Linked DNA regions of Homo sapiens: regions 1, 2, 3 and 5 are each linked to region 4. A link means that fine-mapping ties the variant in region 4 to the plasma level of a protein whose gene starts in the linked region. Region 4 holds a variant in brackets. A gene starts in each other region. All regions are shown on their forward strands. Distances are from middle to middle.

Region 1 (4,149 bases), not on the chromosome of region 4:
CCACATCCTGCCTGCAGTGACTTGCATCCCTGGGCCACACATCTGTCCACATCTGGGCCTTTGTGACCCAGGTCACAGCAAGGGCAAACGTCCTGAGACCAGGCCACTCCAGATGCCCAGCAGACCCTGCTCCTGCATGTCCCTGAGCTGGTAGCCACAGTGCAGAGGTGCCAATGGCCTCTCTCTAGACTAAGCCCCAAGAGACATCTGTGACCTACCCTCTCCACTGGGGCAAGACTGTGGAACTGCAGCAGGCATCTGGGTCTTGGAGTCCAGCCCAAGCACACACAACCCACACAACCTCGGGGCTTGCCAGCTTGTGCCATGGCTATGCTTGTGCCATGGCTATGCTTGTGCCATGGCTATGCTTGGGGAAACTGAGGTGCAGGGAGGGGAAAGGAGGGGGCCCAGGTCACACAGAAAGGACTTTACGGCAGAGGCAGGACAAGAGTCTGGTTCTATGATCAATAGCACACTTTTAAGGGGTCAGCTTCAGGATGCTCAGGCTTCTGGCCTGCTCCCACCGGACCAGCTGCCCTGACACCCGACTGCAGCTCCCACCGGACCAGCTGCCCTGACACCCGACTGCAGCTGAGGGCTTGTGCTTCCGCCATGGCATCCCCCATCAAGCTGGGGGCTCCCGGGGTCTTCAGCCTAGCAGGGGGTACAGCAAGGTGCAGGGCTCACGGAGGGATGACCTCTGTCTTCATTGCCATCTCCCCACCAGCCAAACCCAGGTCCAGCCCAGGACACCCCTCTCCATGGGGCGCCCAACTAATGCCCTCTCTCCTCTTCATAACTGGGTCACTAAGAGTCACTACTTACTGCAGGGAATAGCTTCCTCACCCTTCACCCCACGTCCCTCTGTGCTCCACCCGGGAGCACCAGGACACTGGCCTCTCCTGGTTCTCCTTATACCTGCAGAATGTTCCCTGGATCCCTGGAAGCCCCCTTGCCCTCTGGGCCCCTCCTCCAGGGTTCCCCTCCCGGGTCTCTCTCTTCCTCTCCAGCTACTCAGCCCAGCTCAGACACTGCGCCCAGGTGCCTGTCCCATGTCTCCTCCAGGATAAGCGTCTCCCATTCTACAGCCCTGCAGTCCAACCAAGGTCTACCAGCCACTCGACAAATACATCCTGAGCACCTGTGGGAGCCTGGTCCTGGGCTGGGTCCAGGAGGGCCAAGGGCAGCGCCCTGATCTGGCCTGCCCGACTCGGAGGCCCAGATAGATGTTCTCCTCCCTCCTCCCCTGGTTGAGCCAGACCTGCCCCCTCTCCTGTCCTCTGCCCTTCAGCCAGTGGACATACAGGTGGTGAGCAAAGGCAGGCTTTGTCAGGCTTACTTTGGGCCTCCTGGGGACCTTGGGGAAGTGACACATGTCCTTGGTCTAAGCTTCTCCATGTGTAAAATGGGTCTGACACTCCCTGTGAGAATTACAAGCATGTAAAGCCAGTATTTAATTCCTATGGCGTGCAGAAATGTTGAGGTCCCCGTCGCTGACTTCAGGGCTTCAGACACTGGAACCCCTGACCCCGCCCTTACACCCTTTGATTTCCAGGGACACCAGCTCCGTGGGGACTCCCAGCTCATCTTCTCAGCTTCCTCCCTGACATCTCCATCCACTCCCTCTGCCGCCCGCTCATCCCCCACAGTCCCTCTTTCCAACCCCTCCGCCTCCGCTTCAGGTCTGCGTCTCTCCCCGCCAGAGCCACATCCCAACACAAACCGAACCCCGCCTCTCCTGTGCAGGGGACCCTCCCGCGGGGGCCTCTGCTCCTCAGCTGGCCTTCGAGGCCCCTGTCCCCTCAAATCCGGGGACCCCTGGCCTTCCGCCCCTTCTGCGGCGCTGACAGCCCGCGATTCGCCTCCTCAAGATTCGTCTCAAGTGCCAGCGTGCACCTGCACCCGTCCGCCTCGGGCGCGCGGTGGTCCCCGGCCCCTGTCCCCGCCGTCGCCGGCCACGGGGAGGGGGAAGCCCGCCTCGAGCGCCCTCTGGGGGACCGACCGCGAGCGGAGGCGCTGGGCGTCGGGAAGTGCGCACCCAAGTCCGGGGCCCGGCCGGGATGGATCTCCGGCGCGCGTGGGTCGGGACGGCGCGGCGCGGGGACCCCGCGGGGAAGCGAGTAAGGGCGCGAAGGATCCGGGCTCAGCGCGCAGCCCGGCAGGGCCCGGCTCCGAGGACGCGGAGCCACCGACGGAGACGCGGATTCAGGGGCCGGGAGAGCTACCCCTGCGCCGAGGCGCGGCCCGGCCGCCCTGGCCCTGACCCGGCTGCGGTCCCCGCCCGCCCCTTCCTCATCCCGAGGTCCCGCGCCCCAAGCGCCGTGCTCCCCTCAGGCGTCCGCGCACCAGGGCCACCGTGTCCCCCGCCCGTACCCGGCGGAGCGGTCTCAGCGCCCGCCCCAGGTGCGCGGTACCCCCTCCCCGGCCAGCCCCACGCTCGGGCGGGTGGCCCGTTCGCCGCGCTCACCGTCCAGGAGTCCCAGGCAGAGCCACAGTCGCAGGCACAGCGCGGCGCCCCGCTGCATCTCCGGCCGCTGCGCGTGGGTCCGACCCGAGCGGCCGCGGCTCGGGGCTGAAAGTGTCCGCGCGGGCGCCGGCTGGCCTGGGGCGGGGCGGGGCGGGGCGGGGGCCGGAGGCGGGCCCGGGATTCAGGCCGCTCCCCGCGCCCCCCTCCCCCCGTCCCTCCCAGCCCGCCGCGGGGCGTCCGGTGCACCCGAGCAGTGCGCGCTCCGCACCACAGGGTCCGGGCCCCCTCCTGGGCGGCTCCGGGCGCGGGGACGCGGGTAACGCAGACGGTCTCGCGATGCGCTCCGGAGGTGATGGAGCCTGGTGGGCAAAGGGGAGCAAAATGCGGCACGCGCTCTTTTCCGTCCTTTCTTTCCATCGGTAAAATCTAGACTAAACAAGAAAGCAATCCTTGTAAAAATAGTATGTTACATCTTTGAAAATAGTGGCACCAGCCGGCGTAACATAGGGAGACCCAGTCTCAAAAATAAACAAGCAAATAAATAAAATAATACGCCGAGCTTGGTTGTGCGCGCCTGTAATCCCAGCTTCTCGGGGGGGCTGAGGCAGGAGAATCGCTTGAACCCGGGAGAAGGAGGTTGCAGTGAGCCGAGATCGCGCCACTGCACTCCAGTCTGGGAGCCAAAAAAAAAAAAAAAAAAGCAAAAACAAAACCCGTTCAGCAGTGTTTACCTGCACAGTGTCGACGGACAGTGTCGACGGAAGCCGCACCCGTGAGCGGGACACCCGGGATGACCGACCCCCTCCCTGCAGGCCTGGCCTCCTAGCTTTAGAACTCCCCCAGATGTTTTGTTCTCAGCTCAATCAGGACCCGCCCCCACCTTTTTAATAAAGCGACACTTTGCTTTTGCTTTCTGACTTGGCAACCCTCTTACAGACTTCCGTTCTCTTTTCAGTTTGTCTCTAGAATTTTCCTGTTTAATAATGAAGCCCATGACCATGACTGTCTCAACCTCCTTCCCTGCTTTTCGTTTCATTCACATTTTCCATCCCCCCACCCCCGCCCCCCAAAGCCCTTTCATCCTCGCCAAAAAGCAAGAGTAGATTTTCAATAACCACTACCAGCTCTCTCCAATCCAGGTAAGAAGTGGCTATATTATTAAGCTGGAATCACAAATCAGTGCGGATAGTGTAGATAATTTAACAAATAAGGTTGGGGAAACTAGGTAACCAAGCGATACATGAAGTTAGGTATTTATCAATCATATATTGATTTTTTTTAGCTTTGAAAGATTATGAGATGTAACACACTTATGGAAAGTACATAATATATCAGCATATTATAAACCTGAATTTTAAAGCAACAAATACCTGTGTTTCCATTCTCCAGGCCAAGGGATGTAGAATGACATCCCCACATCCCCTCACTTCCCATCACAAACCCCTCACCAACCCCAGAAGATGCCCACTACCCTGGCATTATCATTTCCCTGCTTTTGTTTATCATTTTATCATCAAAATATATGTTTTGCTTTTTTTTTCAGAATGTACTTTTTTTTTTTTTTCTCAAAGTCTCTCTTTTGTTGCCCAGGCTGGAGTGCAGTGGGACGATCTCACTGCACTGCAATGCAACCTCTGCCTCCTGGGGTCAAGCAATTCTCCCGCCTCAGCCTCCTGAGTAGC
Region 2 (4,149 bases), not on the chromosome of region 4:
TAAGTGCTCTCCACACATTTGCAAAATGACATCAGGCCCCCCAGGTCTTCCAAGAACCAAAGGAAAAGTTCCACAAAAGTGAATCCTGCCATACAAACAGTCCCAGCACTTTCCAGCTCCTTTTTCATTCCAGATTCAAAGGTCTGGCACCAGGATGAGCTGAAGTGTAAGGCATCCACCACTCTCCCCCTGCTCCTACTCCCATCCCACCCAAAGCCTTGTCTAGAGAAAGCTCCTCCCAGCCTCAGGCCCAGGAATGGGAATCTCTGTGGGTCACACATCAGTAGGGAGGTCTTTCCCGATCCTTTTCTATGCTACTCCAGGAGTCAAAGCGTCTCCTGGGACTTTTCAGGGCGCTTCAGAAGAGCCCTGGGCCTAAACCAGCTCAACCAAGCTGCAGGGACCCAGCCTCCTGAGAAAAGTGAATGTGAGCCCGGTGCATTCAGAGGAGAATGAAGCCTTCACCCAGAACACACTCTGGGAAGATGTCCCAGGCCCAGGGGGAGGGTTTGTACTACCAGACCTAAGTCACCTAAACTGACACCAAGTCTCATCCATCCCAACCATTCCATTCCGGGTCAGAGGGGTCATCGATTTAACCAGCAAGGCTGCCCATCCAACGGTTGCTCCCTCTGCTCCCTGGAAGGGCCTCCTCGTGGGCGTTCTGTACCTACAGGTCTTGTTCCGTTCTGGGAACTGCCAGTGGTGGCAAGAGGTGGAGCAACGGGTGCCAGGGCAGGGAGAGGTGAGTCTGGGAGGGAAGCAGAGGCAAGATCCATGGGGCTTTAGAGACTTTGCCAAAGCAGTGCGACTGCTCCCAGGTTGTTGTCAGCCGTCAAGAGTGAGTGCACCTCCCTGGGCAGACTTCTGCTGCCCCAGTGCCCAGGAATAGGCAGGGGTTTGCCGCAAAATGAATGACACCTGGCAGACAATAAGCTGAAGCTTTCATTAGCAGCTTAAGCTGAGGACTATCTATGCAACCGATACTCCCTGTGTGCTCCCCGGGACTGCTTAATGTGAGCCCTTGTGGAGCGATTGGCACCAAGAAAGCAAGGACTAAGTCAGAAGTTCAAGTCCCAGCCTTGCCACAGCCTCAGGGTGCCCTCGAGCACAGCAAGCCTCAGTTTTCCCATCTGTACAATGAGAGAGGTACACAAGGTAGACTCGAAGGCTCTTTGTTGCCAGGGCCCTGTGTTCCTTTGAGTGTATGTGCTTCTCAGGCCCACAGAGGTCCTTTGTGTTTCGTATGTGAACTGCTCTCTAGGAAACCCATGTAACTGTCTGTGTCCTGGGGCACATACATGAGGACTCATGTGGGCCGTATTGTGTGTTTGTGCCGGGGGGAGGGGAGACCCCAGAACAATGTCCCCCACCCCACCCCCCTCCTCAATAGGCGGAAGCCACTGGCTTCCTCCCTTTCCTGCCTCCTGCCTCCTTTGTGCCAGCAAGACTGAGTACTGGAGAGAGACAGGGGATGGGAAAAATCAGTCCAGCTGTCCCCAGGTCTGCCCTTACCATAACCTTCCCCCCACCTCAAGTGACTCCTCCCAGGCCACACCCATCCCCAGCCTTGTGGGGGCCAGATTGGGGGGCCTAGAGGCTCAAAGGCAGAATGAGTCCTCCCACCCCCTACCCTGCCACCCCTCCCACCCAAGCCACCTCATTTCCTCTTCCTCCCCAGCACCGACCCACACTGACCAACACAGGCTGAGCAGTCAGGCCCACAGCATCTGACCCCAGGCCCAGCTCGTCCTGGCTGGCCTGGGTCGGCCTCTGGAGTATGGTCTGGCGGGTGCCCCCTTTCTTGCTCCCCATCCTCTTCTTGGCTTCTCATGTGGGTAAGTCTCCCCTGAGTCCCTCACCCCATTTCTAGGCCCCGAGGCCCTGATTTCTACCCAAGAAACCCTATTTTATCATAGAGACAGAAAGTAGGATGATGGTTGCCATGGGCTGCAGGGAGGAAGAAATGGGGAGTTTTGTTTAAAAGGTACAGCGTTTTTACAAGATTTTTACTTGGTTTTACAAGATTAAAAGAGTTATAAACATGGGGCCGGGTGCGGTGGTTCATACCTGTAATCCCAGCACTTTGGATGGCTGAGATGGGAGGATCAATTGAGGCCAGGAGTTCAAGACCAGACTGGTCAACATAGTGAGACCCCGTCTCCATTGTGTTTAGACTTTCGTCTTTTTCAAAAAAAAAAAAAAAGGATGGATGGTGGTGATGGTGGGACAACACTAGGAATGTATTTAATCACATTGGGTTATATGCTGCTTACAAATGGTTAAGATGGCAAAATTTGCCGGGTGTGGTGGCTCACGCCTGTAATCCCGGCACTTTGGGAGGCCGAGCGGGTGGATCACAGGGTCAGGAGATCGAGACCAGCCTGGCAAACATGGTGAAACCCCATCTCTACTAAAAATACAAAAATTAGCCGGGCGTGGTGGCAGGAGCCTGTAATCCCAGCTACTTGGGAGGCTGAGGCAAGAGAATCGCTTGAATCTGGGAGGCAGAGGTTGCAGTGAGCTGAGATCGCGCCACTGCACTCCAGCCTGGGCGACAGAGCAAGACTCATCTAAAAAGAAAAAAAGATGGTAAAATTTATTTTATATGCATTTCACCACAACAAAAAATTTTGGAAAACAAGCCCTATCATCACTGCCATCACTTTGATCCACTAGAAAGTGAGATCAAGGCCAGGAAAACACAGGCAAGTGCTAGAAATCACTGCAACCTGGGATCAGGGGAGGAGTGAGGAGTAGCCGCTGACTGTGTTGGATCTGAGGATCTGTGGAGGGCCATTTTCAGGGGGTGTTCATAGGGTAATTGTGTTGGATTCACTCAGTTGTTCACTGGACAAACATTTATTGAGCACCAACAATATTCCAGGAGTTGTGCTAAGTGCTGGGCCATTAGTTGAGAGGCTGGCAACACCTAGTCTGTACAATGAGATTAAATGATGCCAGCCTCCTATGGTTGTTATGGGGTTTAAATGAGAAAATGATGCAGAGCAGTTGGCACAGTGCACTGTGCTTGGTAAGGATTTCTGAGTAGGTGGCAGCTGATTCCTTCAGTCTGCTGGTCAGCCGATTAGAACACAGAGGCTGCCTTTGAGTGGTTCATGGTCTAGTGCAGAACACAGGACAGGGGAAGAGGGCTAAACAGGGACAGACACAGGAGCTCTAGAGGAGCACTGAGGAGGAGTTCAGCTTACACTGCCTCAGGTAGGAGACAAAAAGGGAATCAAGGAAGATTTCACTAAGAGGGGTGGTCTTCATTCCAGGCAGCCAGAACATAAAAAATGCAAGTCTCAGAGGCATGGAGGTGCATGGGAGAGAAGGTGCCTGTTAGGAACACAACAGGAGGGATAGCGTGGGAGCATCACGGGGCTTAGGAGCACGAACATTATCCTGAGGGCAATAGGGAGCCATGGGAGGTCACAGGCAAGAAAGTCACAAGGTCAGGTTTGGTCTTAGATCACCGTGGAGGATGAGTTGCAGAAGGAGGGGCTGTGGCTGTTGGGATGGTCTAGGTGAGTAAGGATGAGGGCTGAACAAAGGCAGGCTGGGGGGGTGGGGATGAAGTCAAGAAGCGTTCAGGAAACAATGTGCAGAATTCTATGACTGATGAGGCAGGCAGCACAGTGCTCAGAGATGTGGACTTTAGAATCAGACAACCTGGCCCTGCCACTCACTAATTGTATGACCTTGGGCAAGTTACTTAACTTCTCTGAGCCTCCCTTTCCTGGCTATAAAACAGGGATAATAACATCCACCTCCCAGGATAGCTGGGATGGTAAAATGAAACAATATCAGTAAAGTGCCTGGTGCATAACTGGCAGCCAATAAACATTCATTATTATGACAATGGGAGTAGAGATGACTCCATAGTTTGTGTCTCAAGTGGCGGGTGCTGTCCAGTGAGTCAGGGAGCACTGGAGAGGAGCAGATTTGGGAAAAGCTGATGGAAATGCAGGTCCAAGCTGAAAGACCGTTCCCGAGTTACTGACTCAGAGGTGATGGTTAAAACTGGGGGAGTGGGCGAGCTTGCTCAAAGAAGCCAGTAGAATAATTACCATGATCCTCCTCTGTAACTGGAAAGAATATCCACTTCACTGGTTGTGAGGATCCAGTGGAAAATGGGGGTTGGTA
Region 3 (4,000 bases), not on the chromosome of region 4:
ACTTCTCACTATCTGTGTGACCTTGAGCAAATCACTTAATCTTTCTGTGCCTCAATTTCCTCATCTGCAAAAAGGAATCAATAATAGTATCTTCCTCATAGGGTTTTTGTGCAGATTAAACAAATAAAATAAGTAAATATTTTAAAGCATTTAGAACAGTGCCTAGCACACAGTAACGCTATATAACTGTTTCATAAAATAAAAATAAATAGGCATAGCCAGGTGCAGCAGTTCAAGACTGTAGTCCCAACTAATCAGGAGGCTGAGGTGGGAAGATCACTGGATCCCAGGAGTTCGAGGTTGTAGTGTGCTATGATCATGCCTGTGAATAGCCACTGCACTCCAGCCTGGGAAATATAGTGTGACCCCATCTCAGTAAATAAATAAATAAATAAATAAATAGAGATGCATATGTAATAAAGCACTTAAAAATAAGAGAACAATAAACACAAAATTCCAGAGGGTGGCTACCTGTGGGTGGGAGGCAAGTAGCATAAAAGTGGACAAGTGGTGGCCAGGTGTGGTGGCTCACGCCTGTAATCCCAGCATTTTGGGAGGCCGAGGTGGGCGGATCATGAGGTCAAGAGATCGAGACTCTCCTGGCCAACATAGTGAAACCCTGTCGCTACCAAAAACACAAAAATTAGCTGGGCATGGTGGCATGCGCACCTGTAGTCCCAGCTACTTGGGAGGCTGAGACAAGAGAATCGCTTGAACCCAGCAGGCGAAGGTTGTGGTGAGCCAAGATTGTGCCACTGCACTCCAGCCTGGGCGACAAGAATGAAAACTCTGTCTCAAAAAAAAAAAAAAAAAAAAAAAGCAGATAAGTGGTGTTTGCAGTTTGGTGATACTCCATCCTTGTGCTGAGTGGCAGCTTCAGGTGTGTTTGGTATATTACTGTGCAGTATGATGTATATGTATGTTACATAAGCTTTTTATGCGTTACCTAGTAAATTTTACAAAAATAATAAAAGGGAAAAAGGGCCTTTCTACGTGCCTAGAAAGAAGAGGCTTCATGGGAATGTGAGCCATGGGTTAGGAAAGACCCCCTCGAACCGAGGCAGGTAGGAAGTGAGTGACTGAGATTCATTATGAACCCACCACGCCTGCCGGGGAGAACAGGGACTGTCCCTTCCCCTCTGCATCAGCTCAGATGGTCCAGATCACAGCCCACGTGGGCCCCTAAATAAGGAGGCAGCCCCACATTTCTACATCGGCCACCGAGATGGCAGAGCAGAGGAAGGAGAGAGGGGAGACAAATCAGGAAAGGAGCGCCAGGGCAAGTGCGTGAGCTCAGAGACCCAGCAGGGCAGGGCAGGAGCTTCACAGAGTGCAGAATGTCGAGCCACAGGAGCGCTGGGGATTCCCCAACCCCTGCACTTACCAGCGAGAAACTGAGACCCAGAGAGGGGAACGGACTAAAACTCAGACCTCGACACTGCCAAAATCCTTCCCATGCTGCCACGCTTCATTGGAGGGAAAGTGAGAAGCTCAACCTTACCCCTGTGGGCTCCAAGAAGGGTAGCTCTGGGATCCCGGGCAGGAAATTGGTGACAAGGTGACAAGGTGCGCGTGTCACAGCTGCCCAGTTCACGGCTTATTCAGTCTTCTCCCTCCCCCCACTCCCCACCAGAAGTGACGTGCTTCCTGTGCCCCGGTTCCCACCCTAAACTAGCCTCATTTAGCTCCACTCCCATTCCGCTTTTTTTTTTTTTAATTGTGGTAAAACGTACACAACAGAATTTACCATTTCAATTTTTTTTTTTTTTTTAGACTGAGTCTCAGTCACCCAGGCTGGAGTGCAGTGGTGTGATCTCGGCTCACTGCAACCTCTGCCTCCCGAGTTCACGTGATTCTTGTGCCTCAGCCCGCAGAGTAACCGGGACCACAGGCACCTGCCACCACGCCTGGCTAATTTTTGTATTTTTAGTAGAGACAGGGTTTCACCATGTTGGCCAGGCTGGTCTCGAACTCCTGACCTCAAGTGAACTGCCTTCCTCGGCCTCCTAAAGTGCTAGGATTACAGGCAAGAGCCACTGCGTCCAGCCAATTTTTTGTTGTGTTGTTTTTAAGACAGAGTCTTGCTTTTGTCACCTAGGCTGGAGTGCAGTGGCACAATCACAGTTCGTGGCAACCTCTGACCCCTGAGCTCAAGTGACCCTCCCTCCTCAACTTCCCAAGTGACTGGGACTACAAGTGTGCAGCCACCAGGCTTGGCTAATTTCTGTAGTTTTTGTAGAGACAGAGTGTTGCTTATGTTGCCCAGCCTGGTCTCAAACTCTTGAGCTCAAGCAATCCTCCCACCTCAGCCTCCCAAATGCTGGGAATGAGCCACCGTGCTAGGCCCATTTTAATTATGTTTAAGTGTACAGTTTGGGGCACTAAGTACATTCACATTGTTCTGCAACCATCACCACCATCCATCTCTGGAGCTCTCTCTTTCTCTTTTCTTTCTTTTTTTTTTTTTGAGATGGAGTTTCGCTCTGTTGCCCAGGCTGGAGTGCAGTGGTGTGATCTTGGCTCACTGTAACCTCTGCCTCCCAGGTTCAAACGATTCTCTTGCCTCAGTGTTTTTGTTGTTGTTGTTGTTGTTTGTTTGTTTGTTTGTTTTGTAGAGATGGAGCCTCACTCTGTCGCCCAGGCTGGAGTGCTGGAGTGCAGTGGTGTGATCTCGGCTCACTGCAACCTCCGCCTCCCGAGTTCAAGCAATTCTCCTGCCTCAGCCTCCTGAGTAGCTGGGACTACAGGTGCACGCCACCACGCCTGGTTAATTTCTTTTGTATTTTAGCAGAGATGGGGTTTCACCATGTTGCCTAGGCTGGTCTCAAACTCTTGAGCTCAGGCAATCCGCCCGCCTTGGCCTCCCAAAGTGTTGGGATTACAGGCATGAGCCACCGTGCCTGGCCTTGCCTCAGCCTCTTGAGTAGCTGGGATTACAGGCACGTGCCGACTGGCTAATTTTTGTATTTTTAGTAGAGATGGGGTTTCATCATGTCGGCCAGGCTGGTCTCGAACTCCTGACCTCAAATGATCCGCCCACCTCAGCCTCCCAAAGTGCTGGTATTACAGGCATGAACCACCACGCTTGGCCAGAACTGCCTTCCTTTTGAAGGCTGAGCAATATCCTATTGTGCGTGTGTGCCGCATTCTGTTCATGCATTCATATACTGATGGACACCTGTGTTGCTTCCACCTTTGGCTATTGTGAATAGTGCTGCTACAAACAGGGTTGTACAAATACCTGCTCAAGACTCTGCTTTCAGTTCTCTGGGGTATGTACCCAGAAGTGGAAATGCTGGATCATAATGGTAAAATATACACAACAAAATCTACCATCTTAACCTTTTTTCTTTTTTTTTTTTAGTGGTAATTCTGACTGGGCTTGGTGGCTCACACTTGTAAATCCGGCACTTTGGGAGGCTGAGGTGGGAGGATTGCTTGAGTCTAGGACTTCAAGACCAGCCTGGGTGACAAAGTGAGACCCCATCGCTACAAAAAAAAAAAAAAGTAATTTTGTTTAATTTTTGAAGATTTGCCATCCTGTTTTCCTTACTCCTCCCTTTGATGTGCAGTTTCTGTACTCACTGGGGCCTTCTGTGAATGAGGCAGTTCCAGGACAAGCTACCTTCTGGTCCCCCAAGTGAGGCAGGCGAAGATCACAGAGCTGAGGCTTCCTTGGCTGTGACACACCATTCCAAAAAAGCCTCTTATTAGTGACTAAGACCTATCACTTCATCAAATCTTATCAGACCTGCCACCTTGCCTAGCAATTTTACAACAATTACTCTAGAAGAGTGACTTTGTACAAACAAGCAGAAAGTATGAACACTGGGTGCAGAGGTGGGTGGCGGGCAGCCAGCTAGGCTCACCCACGAGCAGAGGATCTTGCTCCCACGGGCCAGCCTCACAGCACATTGAAACTTCTGGCTTAGCAAAGTCACAAATTAGACCATTCAGAGGCCAGGAGGACAGTCAAGGCCACACATTGCTCTGGCGCAAT
Region 4 (4,149 bases):
TAACACTTTGCTCCTAACTTGTGCCTATCATGATGATTATAAAAGTATTTTACATAAAAATTTCCCCCTGCTTACTCAGTCAATAAGATTCCATCAGAAATGTATGAAATAAGAATTTCCCAGCTCCCTTCTACTCCCACTTACCAAAGAAGCAGAAATTCTATCAAATATCAGGAATAATTTTTTTTAATGCAAATTCCTCTTTGAAACCCTTTGACCCTCAGGAGATTTAAATTCTATGAGGTGAAAAAGAGAACATACCAGACCTTTAAAACAGTAGATGAGAAATATTTGCATTTCTGAAAGAATTTTCATATGATTCATGAGTCATCTTCCTCTTTGGCCACCTAATACAAATTCAGGATGTTATTTATTGTCTCTATAAAAACCATTTTTTCCATATATCTCTGGATAATTCTTTTGCCACAACCTAAGGGGTTATGATACTTTTCCTTTCAAGAATCAAAGTACTAAGTGTGGCAAAAAGACAACAAGTATCCTCTGGACAGAAACCAAATAAGCTCACTCAAAATTAAAGAAGAGAGTTAAAGAACTTTCATGTTTTTCATGCCAGATACTATTGAAAACATCTCATAATTAGCTGATTCAGTCCTCACAACTGTCCTAGGCATAGGGTAGGTATAAACGGCCTCATTTTGTAGATGAGAAAAATGGGGTGAGAGAAATGAAGTCATTTACCCAAGGTCACAGTGCCAGAAAATGGCAGAACCAGGATTCTAACGAGCAGTTGGACTCAAAACCTAAATGAGTGTCCCCAAACCAGAATTTCGTAAGCACTGGTGAATTCTGAGCAAGCACAGGAGAATCTTTATTTAGTATAATTAAAGAATGGCAAATTCTATTAGGCCAGAAATTCCTTTCTATGACAATGCATTGCTGTAAACCTCTCTTTAAACTCATCTACTTCCTTTTCTTATAAATTTCATATGTATGTTTATATACAAATTATATATAAACAGAAGCAACATGATGTGTATGTGCATGTATATATATGTAGATAGATAGATAGATAGATAGATGATAGATAGATAGATAGATAGATAGATAGATAGATAGATAGATAGAGGAATTGGCTCACATGAATATGGAGGTTGGCAAATCCAAAATCTGCAGGTTGGGCCAGCAGACTGGAGACCAGGGGAGAGTTAATGGTGCAGTTCACTACTGAAGGCCATCTTCTGGAAAATTCTCCCTTCTCTGGGGAAACTATTGTTTTGTTCTATTGAAGTAATTGGATGATGTCTACTCACATTATGGAGAGCAAGCTGCTGCACTCAAAGTCCACTAATTTAAATGCTATTTTCATCCATACTCCCCTATCCAGAAATATCCAGAATAATGTTTGATCACATATCTGAGCAGCATGACCCAGCCAAGTTAACACATAAAATTAACTATCATATATATGATAAATATATATATATGTACACACACACGTATCTCATATATAACCCCTCTCTATATAAACTTTTCATAAAGGAAAGGTGATATTTTTGTAGTACCTTAGGAATTACGAATAGGAACATTTGAAATCACTGTTGAAGGGCTAAACACATAGAAAGCATTGGGTCAAATTCTGTACTGACCACCAGACATAACCAGGAATTTAGATTCATGAATAACTTCTGACTATTAGCTTTTCTTGTGATTCATTTCTTTCTCCTAAAGCTTGAGGGCAAACAAAACAAAAATCAGGTTAATCAAATAAAATGATACATTTCTGCCTATGAATTATCTAATTTATCTATTTGTCTGTCAGTTCATCTATCTACTGAGACTTAGAAGAAGGTCTACATTCTTTCTCAGCCAGAACTGAAAATAGGGCAGACTGGATAATACAGGCTTCTTTGCTTTCCAAAAAGAGAATGACCAGACCTCCCACTACCCCGCTTAAAAGTTATGTACAAATGACTTAGTTAAAGTGATGCAAGTTTTCCAAAATGTTGTGGGTAGCCTTGATGATGAGGAAATTATCGAAATACCGGTGCAAACAATCTCTAGAGAGTACACCAGACAATCCATTAGGGTGCAAGTAGAATATGCTGTATTAGGATATATGCATTCTCTTTATATGTAGTTTTAGTTTAAAATATTTTAAAAACATATATTGACACTTCCCTTATGATTGTCAGCCAATCACCTGTCATGTACAATGTGAAAAGGGCCTAAGGGACAAGTAGAAGATACACAATGACAACGCAACAGCACCATTGCTCATTGGTTTGCTATATATTGCAGAACACAGGTGCCTTGTTAAGTGAATTTACATATTCTGGCTCTGATTTTAACCTAACTAGTCCTCACAAAATGGGTAGGTGACTAAAAAATCTATTCCAGCAAA[G/T]AATTGAAGGTGTTAATAATGCATGTACGAGGGAACAATTAGAAAACTGCAGGGCTAACACTTTTATTCCTGCCACAAGCTGTTGCCAGAAACACTAAAATTACCAAGAATATTATTTGAAATATCTATTTATATACATTATCGTTATATAGGTGGCTAATATACAAAATAATTTTTTCGTGAGATAGAGTCTCACTCTGTTGCCTAGGCTGGAGTGCAGTGGCGTGGTCTCAGCTCACTGCAAACTCCTCCTCCCGGGTTCAAGCAATTCTCCTCCTCAGCCTCCTGAGTAGCTGGAATTACAGGCACCTGCCACCAAGCCTGGCTAATTTTTGTATTTCTAGTAGAGACAGGGTCTCACCATGTTGACCAGGCTGGTCTCGAACTCCTGACCTCATGATCCACCTGCCTCAGCCTCCTAAAGTGCTAAGATTACACATGTGAGCCACTGCGCCCCGCCACAAAATAAATGTTTAAACTACTACTTTAAAATATTTCATGTTATTGGATGGGCGTGGTGGCTCACGCCTGTAATCCCAGCACTTTGGGAGGCCAAGGCGGGCGGATCACGAGGTCAGGAGTTCAAGACCATCCTGGCTAACACGGTGAAACCCCGTCTCTACTAAAAATACAAAAAAATTAGCAGGGCGTGGTGTCGGGTGCCTGTAATCCCAGCTACTTGGGAGGCTGGGGCAGGAGAATCTCTTGAACCCGGGAGGCGGCGGTTGCAGTGAGCTGAGACAGCACCACTGCACTCCATCCTGGGCAACAGAGTAAGACTCTGTCCCCCTCAGAAAAAAAAAAAATCGATGTTATTGATAAATTGCAAAAGTGGCCACAAATTCTATCTATCCCTGTATGCTTATCCATTCACAATGTGACTTTGCAACTACTCCCATGAAGAGGTAAATTCTGTTCTATTCCTTGAATCTGAATTTGACCATGTGGACAAAGAAATGGTTGTAAAAATTATACAAGAAGACTTAAACAGATATTTCAATATGTTTATTGAAATAATCCTGTCCCTGCTTCATCATTATATATCACGTGTGTTGGGGCAGATAATTTGTCTTTTTAGTTCATTGGCTTCTAAAACTAGAAGAGCAATATCGGAAGAGACTCATCTGATCTGATTTAGATTATGAGATCCCAAACCATTATTAGATGAGACTGTGGTGCAAGGATCTCATCTGCAGAAGGAATAGTTTCAGGCCTAGATCACTTTGGCTCTAAACATAACAGTTTGCCCCTTGCAAACCCACAGGGAATACCTGCTGGATGACAAGAGATGTGTGTCCCAACCACCGCTGTCACCCAGCCAACAGCTGATCAACCTTCAGGAGCAGAGCTGTCAGAGCAAGTTTTACCTGCTCAGAGGCACTCTGAACTAAATGAGCCAGTTGAGAAAAGCATCCAATTGATCCCAGCCAAAATAGTTGACTTAAAAATTATAAAATAAACATAACTGTTATTCCAGGCAAATGAGTTGGCTAGAGGGTGGTTTGTCTACTTGTCTGTGTCTACACCAGTTGGATACTAAAATTCAATATAGCTTGATATCTGCTGAGGCAAATCTCTCCCCACCATACACACCTTTTCCTTCAGAAGAGTCCTGGGGCTATTCTTGGCTTTTTTTTCAGCTCTATACATTTTGAATGAGCTTATCAAGTACAGTGGAACCAAAAAATACCCTGTTGAAATTTTCACTGGAATTGTGTTAAATCTATAGATACATTTAGAGGAACTGGCATATTTTTAATGTTGACTCTTTCTATCCATAAATAACA
Region 5 (4,149 bases), 14 Mb after region 4:
ATTGAAAATTACAAATTATGTTTTAATCATTTTTTTTCCTTTTCCCAGGAGTAACAGTGCAATTTGACATAAACAGCTCCTTGCCTATCTGGCTGCCCCAGCCAAGCTGGGTCCTACACAAGTTGCTATAAGAGCTTTCTACAACAAGATCTGAACTACTGAAAGATTCAGATCACTTGACTTTTTAGGTGAGTAACAGTCTATTAAGGCTAAAACTAAGTATTGGCTTGACTTTTTTCACTGATGCTCTTCAGTGAAAAGCACAATGGTTAAATAATGAGGAAAATTGCCCACTCAAATGTTTAGTGGTGCTTACTGATGTATATCATTACTGATTGTGATTCTGGCACATACTAGTCATATCTAACCTTGGCCAAATCATTTCACCTCTCTACGCCTCCATTTCTACCTTTGTAAAATGGAGAGGTGTCTTCCATGTCTACTTCACTGGGTTGCTGTGCAGATCAAAGGGAAAAAAGCATGTGAAAATTCTCAATAGAAAGGTGCAGTCAAAGAGTGTAGTTATTTTGCATGTGTTCACTAGTAAGATTAACATGTGGAAAGAAGATTTTTTGTGGAAGATAAGCAGCATTTTAAAGTCATTCAGAAATGAGGAAAAATACCTTTTCTTCTTTCAATTATCAAATTATAACATTTAAAACCAACTACACTCTTCCCTTGCAGCTGCTCTGTCTACCAAAAGTGAAACCTGAAAACTCCCTCCCACACCAACTCCTACCAACCTTCTACAGTGAAACCAGGACACCCCCACAGTGGCCCAAGTTCTCTATAACTTCTATAGGAACCTAGATGTTGAAGAGTCTGTTCTCTAACTCGTAGTGTCTCTTACAGCCCACACATCTTGAAGATAAATACAGACATACATCACAGACGCACCACTGTAACTGTAGGCATATTATATTTTTGAAGTGCCTAATCATCGAAAGTGACAGAAAGCAATAAACTGTCCTAATCTATGCCACTGGCAATGTGGACCTAAATGAGTTAGCGTTCTTATCTTAAAAAAAAAAATTAAGAGAGAAGAGGCTGGGTGCAGTGGCTCATGCCTGTAATCCCAATGCTTTGGGAGTCTGAGGTGGGAGAATTGCTTGAAGACAGGAGCTCAAGACCAGCATGGACAATATAGCAAGACTCTATCTCTACCAAAAATTTTAAAAATTAGCCAAGCATAGTGGCGCATATCTGTAGTCCTAGACACTCAGGAGGCTGAGTGGGAGGACTGCTTGAGACCTGGAGTTACAGGCTGCAGTGAGCTACGATTGCACCACTGCACTCCAGCCTGGGCAACAGAGCAAGACCCTGTCTCAAAAAAGGGGGTTGGGGAAGAGAATAAGATAAAGAGAACCTAACTGACTTTGATTGCTGCTAGTATGTATTTGATTTATCCTGCCTTGTTCAAAAAACAGGAGGAAATAAGGAAATGGACAGTAAGACAAATTATAGAGATCTGTATATTGTAGTAGGATACAAAGTACAACAAGCAAGACACCGGAAAAAAGGATAATAAAGTAAACTAGATATGGGAGTAACCCATATTTAGCAACCCCCTATATTTATTATTGCAATTGATTTGTATTGCCCCAGAAGAAAGACAAAAAATAAACTCAGGAAGAGCTGAGACCAGGTTTCTCACTGTTCTCCCAAAGAGAATTCAAACTTACCGGCCACTAAGAAGATAGTCAAAATCAACAGTAGCCCTAGGTTAGCAGTTCTCCAAGGGCAGAGCATTTCTGTTTTCTCTTTTTCTGCCCTTCACTCAGTACTTTTCCTCCACACAGGTACAGAAGGAACTGTGCGCATGGTGAGACCCTCTCTGGTCAACTTCTCAGTACAGGATCCTCTTACCCCATCAACAGTGGGGCACTCCCTTCCTTCTAGCCCCTTCCTTCACGTCTATGTGGTTTAGCCTGGTTAGTAACTTGGACGAACAGAAGCTTTTCTCTGGAACTTGACACAGCAATAGATTTCCTGTATGAAGCCCTGAAGCAAAGACGGAGGAAGCAGATTGATTGAATTATCTCTCAGCTCATTGGTTCTCCTCTCACTTCTGCTGTACACAGACAAACTTTACAGTAAGGCATTGAACGTGTCCAAGATAAACAGATTTGTCTAAACTTGCACCAAAAAGTAAAACAGAATATTGATCTACTTTGGCCCATCCTTGTAAATTTCCCAATTATGATGACTTTTAGAGGCTTTCTCCAGGTTGAAGAGCTTTACGGCCTTAGTATTTGAGTCTGGAATACAATATGTTTTCTTGAAAATTATTGTGTGAAATTCCTGTCTATAATGGGAGTCAACACACAACCCTGTAAACATCATATGTGTATTAGTTTCCTATTGCTACTGTAAGAAATTACCACAAACTCAGTGGCTTAACACAACACAACATTTATTATCTTACAGTTCTGGTGATCAGAAGTCTGAAATGGATCTTAGGGGACTAAAATCAAGGTGTTGGAAGGGCTGCACTCCATCTGGAGGCTCGGGCAGAATTTGCTCCCTGCCTTTTCCAGCGATTTGAGAATGCCTGCATTTCTTGGCTTGCAGCTACATCATTCGGACCTCTGGTCCACTGTCACATCTTCTCTGACTGTGACCCTTATGCCTCCCTTTTATAAAGACCTTGTGATTATTTTTGGTCCACCCAAATAATCCAACATGATCTAATTTCAAGATCTTAATTTAATCACATCTGCAAAGTCCTTTTTGCCACACAAGGTAACATTCACAGGTTTCGGTAATTCGGACATAGGTATCTACCTTGTTGGGGGTGAGGGCATTCTGTTTATCAGAACTCAGTACTTATTGCCATTCAGTTTCACCTTTGGAAAATTAGACTGATCATTTTAACCAAATTACAAATAATCACCCATCTCTTAGTTGCCACACATCTGGAATTCAGACTCCCCCTAACCAAAAAAAAAAAACAACAACAACAACAAAAAAACCTCTTCCTTACTGTTGCTAGTTACTATGTTACTATGCTTTTAAGTTATGTCTGAGAGAGGGAAAAATCTTCTATGTGCTGAGAATTTTCTGCCCCAAGGCAAAACTGTACAGGAAGGGGAAGAAAACATTGCAAACAGGAAAAAGATTAAACAGCATGCATTTTTTTTCTCAGTTAGCAGTTTCATCTTCCTTCTTGCCAAACATTATAAATATTTCCCCCCTTCCCCTTCTCAAGCTTTTTTTTCCAGTTAATTAATTTGATGAAGACAGTGAAACCAGATCCTTGAGGGCATGGAACACTTAAGGGTATGAGCTGTGACAATGGGAAGACCAAAACAAAAATGTCTTCTCTTCTGTCTAATGTTTCACCAGGTGTCGGAAAATTAGTGAGAATACATCATTTAAAATACAGATAATATTCTGGTTTTCCACTACATAGAAGTGAAAGTTGGCCGGGAGTAGTGGCTCATGTCTGTAATCTTAGGACACTGGGAGGCCGAGGCGGGCAGATTGCCTGAGCTCAGGAGTTCGAGACCAGCCTGGGCAACATGACAAAACTCCAAACTCCATCTCTACTTAAAAAAAAAAAAAAAAATTAGCCAGGTGTGATGGCACTCATCTGTAGTCCCAGCTACTTGGGAGGCTGAGGCATGAGAATCGCTTGAACCCAGGAGGCAGAGGTTGCAGTGAGCAGAGAGAAGTTAAAGTTAAAATTCACACTCGCTTAGGATACAGATAGACATAGGGTTAAGTCTCTGTTGTGCAATTACTAGTCCAGTGATACTGGGAAAGTTTCTTACTCAAGTCTGTATCTGTTTATATTATATTGACATTAGCTTTTTCTCATGTCATCAAAAATTCTTGGAGATCATTTATTTTAATATCTGCTCAATGACATAGCCAAAACTAAACCACAGAAGGGCTAAATGGCCTGTGGCCTCAAAACAACTTATTGGCACGGCTGGGAATAAAATGTGTTATATTTCGTAGCCCTGTGTTCTTTTCACTCAACTCCTCTACTTTGAAATTTCAGGCAACAACTTTCATAGACACACTCCAATGCACTCACCTGAGGTCAGACCACAATCTGCAATCAGCAGTTTAAGAATCAAGTGATGGGTATCAAAAACCATAAAATTCACTAAATAGATTTGGCAGGATGACAGTTTCTCTCCC

Direction of the effects. Positions count from the first base shown, and alleles are read on the strand shown. Strength reflects both the effect of a copy and how common the allele is.
For the plasma level of the protein whose gene starts at base 2,580 in region 1, T is the low allele of the variant in region 4 and G is the other (strong association).
With allele T in place of G in region 4, the plasma level of the protein whose gene starts at base 1,691 in region 2 is lower (strong association).
For the plasma level of the protein whose gene starts at base 1,612 in region 3, T is the low allele of the variant in region 4 and G is the other (strong association).
In carriers of allele T in region 4, the plasma level of the protein whose gene starts at base 1,995 in region 5 tends to be lower than with G alone (strong association).

The links. PIP is the posterior inclusion probability: the model's chance that the variant is causal. Protein levels are from antibody-based Olink assays in UK Biobank. Linkage for the fine-mapping came from a reference panel and not from the study's own genotypes, which makes the PIPs less certain.
Region 1: FLT4 starts here. The variant in region 4 is fine-mapped to the plasma level of the FLT4 protein (UK Biobank, PIP above 0.99).
Region 2: TIE1 starts here. The variant in region 4 is fine-mapped to the plasma level of the TIE1 protein (UK Biobank, PIP 0.97).
Region 3: it holds the start of ICAM2, and the variant in region 4 is fine-mapped to the plasma level of the ICAM2 protein (UK Biobank, PIP above 0.99).
Region 5: CD200R1 starts here. The variant in region 4 is fine-mapped to the plasma level of the CD200R1 protein (UK Biobank, PIP above 0.99).

What each region holds. Positions count from the first base shown.
Region 1 is chr5:180,647,021-180,651,169 of GRCh38, forward strand. FLT4 (fms related receptor tyrosine kinase 4) reads right to left here and starts at 2,580. Exons shown (of 30, transcript NM_182925.5): 1 at 2,468-2,580. The coding sequence starts at 2,525.
Region 2 is chr1:43,299,292-43,303,440 of GRCh38, forward strand. TIE1 (tyrosine kinase with immunoglobulin like and EGF like domains 1) reads left to right here and starts at 1,691. Exons shown (of 23, transcript NM_005424.5): 1 at 1,691-1,838. The coding sequence starts at 1,781. RefSeq lists a silencer at 1,531-1,630 and an enhancer at 1,661-1,750.
Region 3 is chr17:64,019,022-64,023,021 of GRCh38, forward strand. It overlaps ICAM2 (intercellular adhesion molecule 2), which reads right to left and starts at 1,612. Exons shown (of 5, transcript NM_001099789.2): 1 at 1,502-1,612. RefSeq lists enhancers at 1,232-1,351, 1,446-1,946, 1,692-1,781, 2,002-2,051.
Region 4 is chr3:98,695,694-98,699,842 of GRCh38, forward strand. No RefSeq gene overlaps it. Among named protein-coding and RNA genes, the nearest start is that of ST3GAL6-AS1, 35 kb to the right of the region's middle. The variant G/T (reference allele first, on the strand shown) is at 2,363.
Region 5 is chr3:112,973,109-112,977,257 of GRCh38, forward strand. CD200R1 (CD200 receptor 1) reads right to left here and starts at 1,995. Exons shown (of 8, transcript NM_138806.4): 1 at 1,683-1,995. The coding sequence starts at 1,749.